Linked DNA regions of Homo sapiens: region 1 is linked to region 2. A link means that fine-mapping ties the variant in region 2 to the expression of a gene that starts in the linked region. Tissue or cell type: monocytes. Region 2 holds a variant in brackets; the other region holds the start of a gene. All regions are shown on one strand. Distances are from middle to middle.

Region 1 (8,112 bases), 110 kb after region 2:
TGACCAATGACAAATGGAAGAGGTGGGGGGGGGGAGGAATGCCTTATAGCTCCAACTTCTCCCCTAATGTGTAAATTCTTTTTTGAATGCCCTTAGAATGGAGAAGGAATTTGGAGAAAAAGCAGTGAACTGTAGAACAGGAAAGCAGCCAACAGCAACTTTATAAAACTGTGTTCAACAACTGCTGGCCATTAAGGAAGAGCTCCTTAACTTCTCAAGTTGAAACCTGCAAAATGTAAATCAGGCCTTTGTGAGACAAACTAAAATAGTGTCCCCTCAGGGTGCACAAATACCACAGTGAAGTCACCACAGTGAGCTATTCCCTGACATAGTCAGAACCCACCTTGCAAAGGTTTTCCTGGGGGGAAAAATTGCCATTTGTTCCATGTTAAATACATACACACTCAGCAGAGGACCAAAGAGAATAAAAGGCAATAGCCTTATATATCAATTATTCTAACTTAAACACACAAAAAAGATATGCAGATGCAGATTTAAAAGCTTCATTTAATCACTATTGGTTCCTACAGTTTATGAGGAGCTTGGAAACTAATCTGGTTTCAGTGTTAATTTTAGGAGTTTCATAAACTTTGATTGGGTTGGTTTTATAAGCACTCTTTTCCTTAATCTAATTGTTTTTAGAAAGAGGAAAAGCTACCTTTCTCAAGATTAGGATCCTGTCTGCCAAGTTTCCATCCACAATGATTATCAAATTAATTAATGGGGCTGTTTGATAAAAGGCAAATCCTTAGCTACAATCTTAGTATCAACTACTACCCCACTGGTACTGATAAAAACTTACTATAACTTATAAGACATAAAACCCAAACTTTTTAACAGCAACTGAATAATCCATCCAGAAGTTGAAGGTGAAACAAAAAAGACTTCTTCTTAGAAAAGTGGCTGGTGGAGATTTCTCCCCACAACAAGCAGAAAGTGCAATTCTGGTTCCCATAGCAACTTTAACTCTTTTTATCCGAGGATGCACTGCACCCTGCACCCTGGATGACTGTGTATGGTGCTTAAGAGAGCGCTGTTTTCAGAATCAACACTGATTTTCCTGGCTTTTGTACAGCAAGTGATGATACAGGCACAATAATCAGATTTGTATTTGCCATCTGTTAAAATACGCCTCAGCCTCCCAAAAAGTATCAGTTAAAATGATCCTATAATTTTATATACACATGTGTATGCATGAAAAATTTCTAGAGGGTCATATTAATGTAAGAAATTGTGAAGGGTGGTCTCTAGGGCATGGAGCTTAGCAGCTAGTGATAAAGAAACTCACTTGTCATTACACTTACTGTTTGAATTTACAATGTCATGTTTCATTTTCATAATTTAAAAAAGTCAGTGCCAAAACACTTACATAACTACTTACATTTCTTATGTATGATTTGACTGCTTATTTTAAAGTTTACTGTATTTAAAGTTCAACATCAAAAGAAAGGCTAGAAAAGTGGTGGCTAGACCTAGTTCTTTCACACTACTCATTTCTAGCTTCACATGCTCTGTAATAGCAAAGCACAATATGCATCACTTGTTTAAGGGTATGTGAAATTTGAACTGGGAGGGAGATTTAATAGATGCACAAAACAGTCACGGTACTTTAATTCATGGGAAATAATTAGTTAGCTACAGCCCATGGAGTAACTGGAGTTGGGGAGTGAATATGCTAAACATCAAAACACACAGTGACACATGACACCTTGCCTACTTGTCATAAATTGTTGATCGAAACATACATGTATACATATAACCTTGTCATTAAAGGGGGGGGGAGGACAGAAAGAGAAACCTCAACCTCACTACACACAAACCTTTCCCCCTTCCCACCTCCTCCACTATGCATGATTTCTTCCAGGATGTCATTTCTGATCCAAGAACAAGTCAAGTATCCTAGTCAAGTTAGTTTAAACTAGAAGTTTAAAGTACATATTTTTACAGTTAATCACAATGCTTGTAAGAAAATACTTTAACTTTTAACTTACAAGTTTTAAACTCATAGTTTTATGAATTTCATTTAGCAAGAATATTACCAAAAGTTGAGGAAAATTTCAGCAAAACCAAGTCCAAGCATAAAACATTTCATAGTAAAAAGTGATGTTAGAGGTAAACTCTAAGATCTCTTTTGACCTTTTAATCAACCATGACCCAAAGTTAACATATCTGCCTCCCAGTGGGAGCAATCTAACGTAACTGATACTGGGTTACTCTACCGCATTATCTTTGCAACAGGGTAGTAATCACTGAGTAATCTATCTACCTCTGAAATCACCTTAAATAACCTTTAGCTACACAGTGCCTACAAGAGAAAATTCTGAGAGCCAAGATTGACAACCCCACCTTTATGTAAATAAGAGACTGTTGTTCAGTAATTGTCAATTGAATTTCAGGCATCTGAGATTTCAGACATCAGGCAACGCCTTTTCTTTGAAAATTTTAAAATCTGAAAATGAAAAAAATAAGACTTCAAGAGTATTCAAACTTGAACACAGAAACTTTAACAAGTCAAAAGTTAAACAGAAATACTTAGATACACATTTCAAAAATAATTTTGGCCAACTTAAAAAATATAACAGGAGAAAATAAAGAGCAATCTCACAGATCTTAGGAAATCCTCGGTCACTAGCTATGTCTTCAGAAAGGCACCTTTAAAAAACTGAACTCAGTGCACTTTACTTCTTCAATCCCTGAAAAACAGATACCTCATAGTATCATTTTATGAAATTATTTTCAAAATGTTTCATTTGTTTAATGACTCAACTGCAAATAAGATGTTAAATAATTCTGCTTTTCTAACACTTATTCCACACACAATAATTTAATCCCACTTTTCAAAGTACTTTTTGTTAAGTCCAATTCTTTCTCTGGAATCCTGATACTTACATAAAGTTTAGTGTACCGGAGAGCAGCAAAATCATGATCAAAAGAACCATTTGCCTACAACATGTTCCTTTCCAACACCCCTAAGTGATATTAGCCTTACAAAATTACCCTCCCTTGACAGAAGAATGGCTTGAGGCAGTCTGTTCTCTCTGGAAGTTCATTAGTACCAGCTACTGGTAATAATCAAGCCTTCCAAGGCAATGGGGAGTGAAGTGTTAAGTCAAACGTGTTTCTCACACATAGATTCCTCTGTTAAACACAATAATGAAACTTTCTGCCTATTTACGTATCTCAATGATGAAGAAAACCTTAGCTAGACCGAACATTATTTTTGGTGCTTCCAGATACATATGTCCATCCTCAATCCACTGCCCTGCCATGAAGTTTTCTACACATCCCTTTCCTGATTTCTGAAACATCACTTACACGTGTTTCTACAGTTGCTTTGAATGAAAGCAAAAGGGAAGACAGTAAAGGAGAGCCTTTTTACCCAGGGACAAGGCTATGCCCAGCAATTACAGTGAGTGCACTTCCTTTTGTTCATTCTGCACCAGGATTAGCAGTCAAATCGCTTTGTGGTTCTTAATTAAGGCTGAGCAGCTATAAAGAACAATAACTTCAAAAGTGAATTTATGTTTTAATTACACATAGGCAATATAGGCAGCGAAGGCATTTGCTCCCCTCAAATTCCCCCTTAACTCAACAGAGCAATCACCCTCAGCCCTGGAAGGACATCTAAACATTTTAAAGGCGAAAGTGTTTAAGGCGGACCTTCTTGTTTCCGATCCAAGAATGCGCTGTGATGACCTTGCTAGCAAAGAGAAAAGTGGGGATGGGAGTTTCTGATTAACGCTTCAGAAAAAAAAGGGGGAAATCACAATCCTAACAGCCGAAATGCAGAATAATCAGAGAGCCAGAATCCCGTTAAGTCAGAAAGAACAGGAAAGCAGAGAGACTCGTGCGGAACATCCTGGCCCTCACGGGATGTTAAAAGCAGTATCTATTTAAGAAGTTGGAGAAAGGAGTTTCTGTGTGGCCCATGCCGGGGAACAGAGAGCAAACACGCGGCCGTCTGCGCCCGTGAGGCCGGCCACTGGGACGGAGCCGGTCCGGGAGCTGGGCTGCTGGCGAGCAGTAGCAGGGGACGGGGCTGTCACCGCTTACCCAGGTGCAGCGTGAGGTTGATGGAGCTGGGGTACTGCACCCCGGCCAGCATGGTCTGGCTTTGCCACCAGGTGGTGTCGGCCTGGTTGTTGTAGTCGGTCAGGAAGGCTGCCCCGTGCTGCAGGTGGGGCTGCCCGGCGTCGCACAGGTGACAGGACTTGGTGACCCCGGTCACCCCGGTCTGCACACAGTATTCCTCGGGCGGAGTCCCACACGTGTTGGTGGCCACCACAGTCACGTTGAAGGCGGCGTTGACGAACTCGGGCATGCAGCGCTGCGGCCGCCCGCCCTCGTCCGTGCACTCGTCCATGGCTGCCTGGGCACAGCCCGCCGCGGCGGCCGCCGCCAGCACGGCCAGCACGGGCCAGAGCCGCCCCCGGGGCCGCAGGGCCGGCGCGGCCCGATGGCTCCCTCTCATCCCGCCGCCCGCACGCTGGGTCACGGCGAAGGCAAGGGCACCGGCGCGTTCCTCTCGCCTAGCGGCGTCCCCCGGAGGCCGCTTCGCTGCTTGAGCCTGGGGGCCCAGGGGCCTGACTCCGGCGCGGGCGGTGGCGGCGGCTCGCGCCGGAGAGACTGACGGGTGGGCGCCCCTAGCGAGGACCGCGCTGCTCGCCGACCACTGCCCCCGCGCGCCGCCTCCGCGCTTCCCTCACCTACCCCGGGAGCAGCCTGCACTCCGCGCCGACCCCCGACTTCCGAGCGCGTGCCCGAGTGCGCGCCCCCGGGGAGGAAGGAGCAGGGGGTGGGGTCGGCAGGGTGGGGTGGGGTCTGGGCGAGGAGAAAGCCCAACCCTGTCTCCTCTCAGCAACTCCCGCGGCCCCTGGGGCAACTCCCCGGCCCACCGCGCCCCATGGACTGCGCGTCCGCCCCGGCGACTCCAGGAGGCGGCGGGGGCGGGAGCAGCGGCGTCTCGCGCTCGGGCCCGCGGCGCGCGACCCGGGGGGAGGGGCGCGCGAGGTGGGCGGGGAGCCGGGGGAGGGGGTTGGGGGAGGGGAGGGGAGAGGAGGGGAGAGGAGGGGAGGGGAGAGGAGAGGAGGGGAGGGGAGGGCGGCTGGGTGGTGCATGCCGGGAGGGAAGGGCGGCCTCGCAGACCCGCTCCCCGCGCGGGAGTCGCTGGGGTCCTTGGGCTCCGCGGCCTGGGAGACTCCGGATTGCGGGAGGAGTCGGGGGAGGGCGCCTTAGAGGGGCGATGCCGGGTCAGGAGGTCGCTCGGGGTCGTCCCTGGGGCCTCGCGCCAATTTGGGCTGCGGCAAGAGGGTCCCCGCCCGGCCAGGTGTGGGTCCGAACCGGGAGCGCCCGCTGCTGCCCGGGGCCCCGCTCCAGCCCCTCCCGAACAGAGGTCCCGGGGCGTTCATGGGGCCGACACGGTCCCTGGAGAATCAGAAGGGCCTGGTCGCAGCAGCCAGATGAGTTTCGTGAAGCGATTTCCTGCCGCTGATTTAAAGTGTAACCAGTCGTTTTACCGGGGCAAGGAAGGAAGTGAAAAGGCTGGGAATGGAATGAATTTTTCCCTTGGGTACGCACGACCCACTGCGAAATTCTTCCACTGTGTTGTTTGTGTTCCTCGGCTTGCCTTTAAAAGACTCGAAATTATGTGGATTCTGACATCCTCCTTTTCGGGCCTGCTGAGTCACGGAATATTCTCAGTGCCAGAATGACTCAGTTCACAGAACCTGAGCCAGAAGATCATGAGTTTTAGTCCCGGAGCAGAACCTGGGCGCTTACCCAGTGCTGGATACGGCAAGCAGAGACCAGGGCAGGGAGGCAGCAGCTTGAAACCCTTGGCGTCCCCAAGCAGAGAGGATGCACATAGTGAATGACACGGATTTGTTTTGTTCTAGCTTTTCAGGAATTTAATGATAAAGTGCGGATAATAAGTACACCGCAAAAACAAAACAAAAAAACACATGCATAATTTCGGACCCAGTTGTCCCATTAAGATAGGCGTAATGGGAATCTGAAACAAGGAAATAAGTATATGTTAGGTGACTCTGGATAGTTAGGGTTAGTTAGACGCAGACTGCTGATTAGGAAAACCTTAAGGATAATGTTCTGGTAGGATGAAGAAGGGAGGGGAATCTAGGGTCTTGTTACACGGCTGAGCTTACTTAGCAAGTTATGTTCATCACTGTTCCGTTTATTTGATGAGATGGGTGGAGATTATGCATGGCTAAAGGTGCCTCATTCTTGGCACCTTCTCTTTGGGAGAATTAAGTTGTGGGGACTAATAATTTTTTAATCCTTTCATACATGAGTTGAAGCGAAATAAATACGTTCATTTACACCTAGAGGGGATTATATGCTCTCTCAGTCCTTCGTTGTACTTGAGGACAAACGTGGGCATATAGGACAAAAATAAGGATGTTAGTTGTGAATAAAGCTACAGATTTGTAATAAACTTGTTTATATTTTAATAAACATATTAGTGAATTTGCATTATTATACATTTTTAGTACTTTGTTATATAGTGGCCAAAGCGTGGGTCTCTATTTCCAACAATCAAAATAAAGACAAGGAGACCCCCAAAGGCTGTGAAATCAACATAAATGGGTTTGTCATTGCTGCCTTTTGAGTCCTAATGTCCAAGACTAACATCAAGATATTACTTATGCGAATTTTCCGTAACTTAATTACCAGAGCTTATCTGATATTTGTAAAGCACATAAAGAGACCTTGAATTAATCTCTCAATTCTCTTGCTTATGGAAATGTGTCACAGTGACAAACATCTATTTTGAAAAGAGGTAAAGTGTAACCAGCCAGTGGGCTTGATGATAAAAATTTTGCTCCGTTATTTGGATCTTGATTCAAACAAATCAACGGTTAAAACAAAATTTTTAAGACAATTTGAGAAATTTGAACACTAACCAGATGTTTGATGTTATCGACAAATTATTTTAGCCACCTAGAGATGCCACAGTCTACTAGACAGTATTTAAAGAAAAAAAGTGAAAGTGTGTAAGAATTTCTTTTACTGCAGGTTACCCTGTTTTTCAAAAAACTCCAGTCTTTTGAATGCACGTTCTTAAGTGCTTAGACATTTCATTATCAGCCGGGCGCGGTGGCTCACGCCTGTAATTCCAGCACTTTGGGAAGCCGAGGCAGGGGATTACTTGAGGCCAGGAGTTCGAGACCAGCCTAACCAATATGGTGAAACCCTGACACTACTAAAATTACAAAAATTAGCCGGGCCGGCTGGGGTCGTTGGCTCACGCCTGTAATCCCAGCACTTTGGAAGGCCGAGGCGGGTGGATTACTTGAAGTAAAGAGTTCTAGACCAGCCTAGCCAACATGGTGAAACCCCAACTCTACTAAAAAAATAAAAAAATTAGCTAGGCGTGGTGGCGCGTGCCTGTAATCCCAGCTACTTGGGCAGCTGAGGCAGGAGAATCCTTGAACCAGGGAGGCGGAGGTTGCAGTGAGCCAAGATCGCGCCACTGCACTCTAGCCTGGGCGACAGAGCAAGACTCTGTCTCAAAGGAAAAAAATCATCCCGGCGTTGTGTCCATGCCTGTAATCCCAGCTACTCGGGAGGCTGAGGCAGGAGAATTGCCTGAACCCAGGAGGCAGAGGTTGCAATGAGCGAGATTGCGCCACTGTACTCCATCCAGCCTGGGCGACAGAGTGAGAACCTGTCTCAAAAAAAAAAAGAAAAGAAAGAAAGAAAGAGAGAGGAATTCTATTATCTGAAAGACAGAGAGAAAAAGGAGGGATGGAGGGGGGAGGGGGAGGGGGAGGGGAGTTTCATTATCTACCAGACATGGTACTTAGAAGAAAAATGTGAACGGATGGGGAAAACTTTATTCAGGTCCCTCAAAAGATGATCTTAGTGCCCAATCATCAGTGTCTCTATGCAGCAACAAAGGCAGGATGAGGAAATGTAATTGTTTATTGTTTATTGTATGGGCAAGAGAGCTCCAATTAAAGAAAAAAAATGTGAAACTCCAGAGAAAAGAGATTTCTCCCTTCATAATCTATATAAATAATTTCAAGGAAGGATGTTGATTGGCTTGGCTTTGGTCACCTGGCATACCCCCAAAGCTAGGTAAATAGAATACCA
Region 2 (8,000 bases):
TCCTTTTTTATTAACATTTATGAATTACCCAGTGAAAAATATAAACACATACTTTTAATGTCCTAAAACCTCAAACGTGTAAAGCAATGTTTTACTTTTAACTGAGTAACTTTGGGACAGGACAATTGTGCAACAAAATTACCTGGCAGAAGATCCAAATTCTTTGTCTTCTATGTAAGCTACTAACCCAATTCTTGACGAGACAATGTGATGAAAAACAGAAGTCAATATAAAAAAGACTCTTCTCAACAAGTGGGGGATCTTTATTATTAAACACTGTTCACTTTCTGCCAATGAGCAAATATACCAAAACCTCTTACCATCCCTGCCATCATCATGTCCTGGTCAGCGTCATCTTGTTTTCTCTTTAGCTCTTTTTCTGCTTCCTGCAGTTGCTTCAACATATTGTTCACCTCATTATCCAGATCTGTAACTTCTGCAAAAGTTCTTTCAGCTTCTGCCTTGGTGCTGGTGGCATTCTAGGCACAAAAGAAAATTGTACTTTTTTTAAAAAAGCTTTCCTTTTTCTCAAGTATGCTCCCGCTCCTTTTATAATTTATAAAATGTCTTAAAAATATAATCCAGAAATAATAATATATTGATTTATACTATCTCATGACTTACATTATCAATTTGGGTTATAAATAATCATAAAAAAAATTACTACCCACATAATAACATTTTGTATTTTATCTAGCACTTTCATTTGTATCCTCTTCTTTAATCCTGGAAACTTCTGTTCTATTATTGCTATTTTTAGTTGGGGTCATACAGACAGCAAATGATAAACATTTAATGGCATACACTTTCTACGACATCATATTGATTAGATGCTTTCGCTGAGGTAAAATTTAAATTCAAAGCTAGCTTGGTTCATTCTTGGCAGTTCATCATAATGTACAAAAAGACCACAATCCTGAAATATGAGTATTTTATAAAATATAATTAATCCAAAAGCCAACTGTTCTAAGGAAACTAAGAGGTTTCTCTGATTCTTAAATACCTAATTCTAAAATTGCTCCAATCTCTCTTTTAAATAAAACAAACAGATTGACCTTGAAATAAGAGAAAGCCAAACTAAAAAACATTATTCTTGAAGATGACTTCAAAGAATCCTAGCAATGGCAGCTATGGGAAGTCTCTCCTAGGAGTGGCTTACATATGGCAATATACTTGAAAGGGGGACTTGAAAGTTATATTGATAAGGCACACTACATAGTATTGAAATAAATACCACCTGTCTAGGTCAAAGAAGAATGTTTATTTAGAAAAAGTCTGATTTTTTGTGGGAATGGGCTCTATAGACCTCTGAAGCCAGACCTCACACTGAGACATAGTAGAAATTTTAGAGTAAAGCACCCTTTTACTGAGTTCCCCTCCTCAATGTGGATACCTACTCTCATGCCTAGTCAAAAGAAAAAAAAAAAGACAAATATGGTTTAAGACAATTTTACTGAAGTTCAGGAAAAAAATCTGCAAGGGCTCTGAGGGTCTGGAAAGAAACTGGAAAGTGACCAGAGAAAGATATGGGCAGGGACTCTTGGAGAAGAGGAAACGCACACCTTTTGGACAGCGCTCGCGATCCTCTCCGCCTCATGGGCCTTGTTCTTGGCCTCTGTGGCATCCGCCGCAGCACTGCCCAGGGCCTGCTGGGCTTCTCTGGTCTTTTCATTGGCTTCAGTGATGGTCTGGTTGATGGCAGGAATCTTCCTTAGTGCCTCCTCTGCGGCCGTCTTGTTATCGTTCACACGCCTATCAAAATCTGAAACAAGTTCAAGGACACATTTGAGCTAAACTCCCAACAAGTAAAAAGGGGGCCTTTCAGGGAGTTCCAACTGGATTTTGTTTTATGAACAATGGAAGTCAGGGTAAAAAATGGAAGAGAGCATGGGCTGAAATTTTAGAAATTACACATCTCTACAGAATAGGTCTCCCAGTTAGTGTTATAGAAATGTTCCGTTTCTGGAAATAGAATTCTTACTTCAACAATGTGCTTTAAAATGCAGAGCGCTGAGCATCCCATTACCACTACCTCAACCATTATTAAAAGCTGCAATTTATTTAGTGTTTACTGTGTGTCGGGTACTGAGTTAAGAGCTTTGTGTCTTTGACATAAAATAGGCTGTATCATTTTTATAAGAAAATTGAGGATTAAAGAAGTTACATGACCTGTGGTGCAGGGTGCAGGGTTTTGAACCAAGGCCCACTGACACCAGAGTCCATATTTTGAACTACTACTTTTTTTTTTTTTTTTTTTGAGAGACAAGGTTTCACTCTGTCACCCTGGCTGGAATGCAGTGGCACAATCACTGCTTAGTGCAGCCTTGACCTCCTGAGCCCAAGGGATCCTCCCACCTCAGCCTCTCAAGTAGCTAGGACTACAGGTATGTGCCAGCATGCCCGGCTAATTAAAAAAAAAATTTTTTTTTATAGAGATGGGGTCTCACTATATTCCCCAGTGAGGAACTGGTGTTCAACTCCTGGCCTCCAGTGATCCTTCCTCCCGAAGTGTTGGGATTACAGGCCACCGTGCCTGGCCCATATTTTCAACTAGTACCCTGTAAAGCATCCTGTAAAGCTTCTCTATTTATAGAACCTATGACTGTTTTATCAGACAAGAATTCACAGTTGCTCAGTGAATTGGTCACATTTCTCTTCTATCTGGGGTGAAGAAAAAAAAACAACAACAAAGAATCAGATGCCACTGGCAGAGAAAATGAAAGATAATCTCCATTTACCTATATAAGTTCTCTAAATAGGCATCTTGGTTATGTGAGTTTGCCTAATAAGAAAACATCTTTAAAAAAAAATCCATACTGAAGTATGCAGGGATAAAATGACAGGAGCTCTGGGATTTCCCTTTGAAATACTTTAGCATAAAAAAAGTAGGGAGTTGGGGATGAAGTAATAAATATGGTAAAAGTCATGATTAAAAAAAAAAATCACTCTAGTGGCGGAAGCATTTGCCCCTGTTATCTCAGCCTTTTCTACCTTTCAGGTTGTTGAGAATGTCATTAGCTTCTTGTAAGGTATCCCGTCCCTTCTTTGCAGCTTCTTCAGCGAGGGCCTTGGCAGCATCAGCTCGGGCTAGGAGTTGGTCTGCGGTCTGCAAACACATGGCAGATGAGAGGATGAACCCTCAAAGCAAATCCCTTCTGTCTCCTGGACAGACAAGGCTCTCCAGAGGTGCCACCCTGAGACTTGCCAGCATAAAATCTGTTAGGCTGCTCTCTCAGCACTGGGGTCTGCTGTCTCTGAAAGTACGGCATCATCACAGACCCATTTGGACTGTTCAAATGTTGCCTCAAGAAATGAAGCGACCTGCAAATCAAACCAACCTGCTGTTCAGTCTTGCCTTTCTCCAGAAGGTTCTTGACTTCAAGTTCCTTCCCTCTCATATCTTCTCTGAGGTCCTCATAATCTTTTAATTTCTGGTCAATCAGTTGTTCCAGATTCTCAGCTTCCATCTTTATGTTATTTGCTTCATTCTGTGAAAAGCAAGTAAGATCACTACACTTTGGATAAAACATTTAAACTAATGAAAAGGTAGGCTTAGGAACTCTGTAACACCTAATACTCAATGATATTTTTAAAAGAACTGCACAGATCAAGATTTTATGGACTTTTTT[A/T]AAAAATGAGATATACTTTACACCCACTGAAGTTCACAGAATCCACATATAGTTTGATGAGTTTTGACAAATGCATTTCTGCATAACCAACACCCCAATCAAAATACAGATTTCCATCACCCAAGAAGCTCCCTTTTCTCCCTTTCCACCCGATCTCTACTCTACCTTTCCAACACTGTGCCTGCCATTGTTCTGATTTTTATCATCATAGACTAATTCTGCCTATTTTCTAATTATAAATATATAGAATCAGACAATCTGTACATATCTAAAGAGACCTAAACCTTTATGGTAAAAATCAAGTCAACACCTCAGATATAAGAAGTGAAACTTAGTAAACCTCAAGCTTAATGCAAAAAAAATACCATTTATACAGAGCTTGGAGTGAGAATCCATGATTAAGAGTACAGATATGAAATAAAATCCTACCAATTCCAAAATATTTTACCTGCCTCAGAACATCCTGCTATAGTCTTTTAATTAAACCATTCTCTCTTATTTCTCTCTAGGTCTCTACTAGACAGAGCCTGGGAGTAAATGTCTACATGTACTCTGCTTTAAGCAATTCAAATGTATTATTATAATTTGGATTTGCACTAAAGACTTAGGAGTGATTGTTCATATCATTAAAGTAGTCTTTGCTATTTAATGTTTACAATCACAGGATTCTTTACCTTGGTAAGTTTTTGTTTTTGTTTTTTTAAGAGATGGGGTCTCACTATGTTGACCAGGCTGGTCTTGAACTCCTGGCCTCAAGGAATCCTCCCACCTCAGCCTCCCAGGGTTGGCATTACAGGCATGAGCCACCACATCTGGCTACCTTGGTAAGTTCTATTAGCGTATGTGAAATAAGACTCAACTTTACCAGCGAGTCAGTGGGAGGACAGAGGGAGGTGCAGAGCAGTCGGCTCTCACATAGACTTGGGGGAGAGACGGGGTGGGGCTGTGCGTACAGGCTGCCCCCATACCTCCAGTGTCTCAGAGTCCAAAGGGCTCAGCTGAGCCACGCTGGCATAGATCTCCACAGCTTTGTCACCGGCCCTTTTGGCCTCCTCATGTACTCGGGCAGCTTGTTTTTCCAGATCCTGTGAGATGTTCTTCGCTTGTTCATACCTAAGACACAAATAATGTGGTTTAATGACAATCTTAGCTGCTTTTAGCATCTTAATGTTAACCAGATTAACATGATCATGTGATAATACGCCCAAAACCTCAAAGGAAATGCTACATTAAAATGCTTGCATTTTAATACCAACATTTTGCATATTTACATTTTCTTTTATCATTTCTATTTATAATGTATGGCTTGGCCGGGCACAGTGGCTCACGCCTGTAATCCCAGCACTTTGGGAGGCTGAGGTGAGCAGATCACTTCAGGTCAGGAGTTCAAAACCAGCCTGGCCAACATAGTGAAACCCCGTCTCTACTGAAAATACAAAAATTAGCTGGGTGTGGTGGCAGGCACCTGTAATCCCAGCTACTCAGGAGGCCGAGGCAGGAGAATCGCTTGAACCCGGGAGGCAGAGGATGCAGTGAGCCGAGATCGCGCCATTGCACTTTAGCCTGGGGGACAAGAGTGAGACTTCATCTCACAAAAACAACAAAAAAAAGAAAAAATTTTCTATAATGTATGGCTTACCATATACTTTCTTATTTCAGACACCCTTTAAAGATTTGTAGTTCAATTATGTTTCCTCTACTTACTCTATTATATTTTTTCTTCTTTATTTGTGCACAATTTTAAGTATCATGGCTCATCTTGTTACTATTCTCTGTAGTTACAGTAATTGAATCAAACCAAATCTCTGTGGCTTCACATGCCCTTCTCTACTTACTTTTCCATTTCAAAAGCATGATTAACAAAGGAAATCTTACTGCATGAATGTATGCCCTGAATGCACCAGCATTTAATTTTTCATTGAACTAGTGTTACTTACCAGAACACCTGAAGGGGTGTAAACCACTTTCAAATTATACTCACTTCCTATTAAGCTCTTCAATCTCAAATGCTGTTTGATTTTCTCCTGCCAGTGTCCTCAGAAGCAGGTTGTATGCCTCAGTTGACGTATCATTGGCTGTCTTTGCCACTCGAACAATGTCATCAGCTTCCTGTTTATGACTATACAGATAAAACAAAAAATAAGCCATGAAACAACCATCTGATAGGGACATAAGTAAAATTCAGGTAATGCTTACTTTATTATTATTATTATTATTATTATTATTTGAAATGGAGTCTCGCTCTGTCACCCAGGCTGGTGTGCAGTGGCGTGATCTTGGCTTATTGCAACCTCCGCCTCCCGGTTCAAGCAATTCTCCTACCTCAGTCTCCTGAGTAGCTGGTATTACACGCATACACACCATGCCCAGCTAATGCATCTTTAGTAGAGATGGGTTTCGCCATGTTGGCCAGGCTGGTCTCAAACTCCTGACCTTAGGTGATCCACCCGCCTTGGCCTCCCAAAGTGCTGGGATTACAGGCATGAGCCACTGCTCCCGGCCTACTTTATTATATGTACATATACTAACATGGGCAACAATTCTACAAATATTAGAAAACGTCATTCATTTGGAATTTTGTGATCATTTCAGTGGGGCTGAATTTATGAATAGCATTCTAAAACTGAGATGAGAATATTTTCCAAAAAAATTATTGGTATACATTTATAAGAGAAAATGTTTATAATTCTTCAGAAAAACTACTTTTAAATTTAATTATTTGAGAGTAATGTACATATAAAATTGTGTATGCCAGCAAGAAATCATTTACCTAGTTAAAAACAAATCCCATGCCTAATCTTTATTAACAACAATCTGCTAGTTTCATTCAGTTACTACAGTCTTAAATAAGTTAAAAATCTAAAAATATTATGGTTTTGAGAAATATAAATATGATTTGTCTTCAAACCATTGTATTCTAATATTCAAAGTGAATATTCTAATGTCAAAGTAAAAGGAAGAAAAGAGTATACACAGCTGATAATATCTTAGAAAAGAGAGCAAAGTGTGCAAAAGTGGGTTATGTAGAAAGTGTTTATGGGTTATGGGATAAGACAATACACACACACACACACACACACACACACACACCCCATAACAGAAGCCACAACTTAACCATTAAACAGGGATCTAGAAGTTACCGTTCAGCAAGCTTTCGAGCCTCTTCTGCCAAAAGAGTCATGTTGTTTGGGTCCCCTGTAGATTCTGGCTGAGTGACTGACTGCACAGGAAATAAAGCACTTATTCTCAAAGGACTGAATTATTTACATTTAATAAAGCAAGAGTCAAAACTAAATTTTTGTTAGAGGGCAAAAAGAATGCCTCTACCTTTTTTTTTTTTTTTTTTGAGATAGTTTCACTCTTGTTGCCCAGGCAGAAGGGCAATGGCACAATTTCAGTTCACCGCAACCTCTGCTTCCTGGGTTCAAGTGGTTCTCCTGCCTTAGCCTCCCAAGTAGCCGGGATTACAGGCATGCACCACCATACCCGGCTAATTTTGTATTTTTAGTAGAGACGGGGTTTCTCCATGTTGGTCAAGCTGGTCTCGAACTCTCGACCTCAGGTGATCCACCCGCCTCGGCCTCCCAAAGTGCTGGGATTACAGGCGTGAGCCACCGCGCCTGGCCCCAAGAATACCTCTTCTTATTTTCAGAGATCTTTATTTAATATCAGCACCCTTGATTGCAGATTCTATTTTCAGTAAAGGATAAAGGAAGATTAAACTGCCTAGTTCCATAGAAGGAACAAAGCTAGAGAAATAACCCAGATGTCCCTTGGTTTTTATCCAGTTTTTAATAACTGTTTCATGCCAACTATGAGCAATGTGGCTTTTCTGCCCCATATTTAGGGACAAATAAAAAGATGCATGGAGTCAATTTAGTTGAAGAAGCACTCCACTGCCAGTAACAGACTTGCTACAAACCCCAGGGGCCTCCCCCATCCCCACCTCAGACGTTTGCAATCACTTACCACATTGGCAGCAGCGACTTTTGCTTTCTCAAGTTCTCTGGATGCGATTTCAATCAACCGCTCTGTGTTCTCTACATGGGCACGCGCTTGTTCAGCCAAGTTTCCAGTCTCTTCAATGGTATTCCGGATATTCTGTAAACGGCTAATTTGGCTGGACAGAGTGTTATTCACTCTCTGTAGGCGATCCATCAAATTCTGGTCAACATCTAAAATGGTTTGCAGAAGAAAGTCTGTAAATTATCTGAAGAGGATCATATCATCTCACATGAAATCTGAGGCCCTATGTATCTCTACTCTTCTAAACATCGCAACTTTCTGCCAGGTTTCCACAAAGCCCCTGCCATAGCTGGACAGCCTTTACCACACCCAGTAGGTCCTTCACTGTGCACTCATCACACCTCC

Evidence for each region. PIP is the estimated chance that this variant, and not a neighbour inherited with it, causes the effect.
Region 1: LAMC1 starts here. The variant in region 2 is fine-mapped to the expression of LAMC1 in monocytes (TOPMed, PIP 0.98).

What each region holds. Positions count from the first base shown.
Region 1 is chr1:183,020,076-183,028,187 of GRCh38, reverse strand. LAMC1 (laminin subunit gamma 1) reads right to left here and starts at 4,768. Exons shown (of 28, transcript NM_002293.4): 1 at 4,054-4,768. The coding sequence starts at 4,471. RefSeq lists enhancers at 3,852-4,405, 4,961-5,515, 5,516-6,071, 6,809-7,308 and silencers at 4,360-4,499, 4,520-4,589, 4,640-5,029, 5,060-5,449.
Region 2 is chr1:183,130,148-183,138,147 of GRCh38, reverse strand. It overlaps LAMC1 (laminin subunit gamma 1), which reads right to left. Exons shown (of 28, transcript NM_002293.4): 19 at 7,599-7,804; 20 at 6,770-6,849; 21 at 5,611-5,748; 22 at 4,598-4,742; 23 at 3,339-3,488; 24 at 2,992-3,106; 25 at 1,563-1,762; 26 at 321-479. Among named protein-coding and RNA genes, the nearest start is that of LAMC1-AS1, 7.1 kb to the left of the region's middle. The variant A/T (reference allele first, on the strand shown) is at 3,630.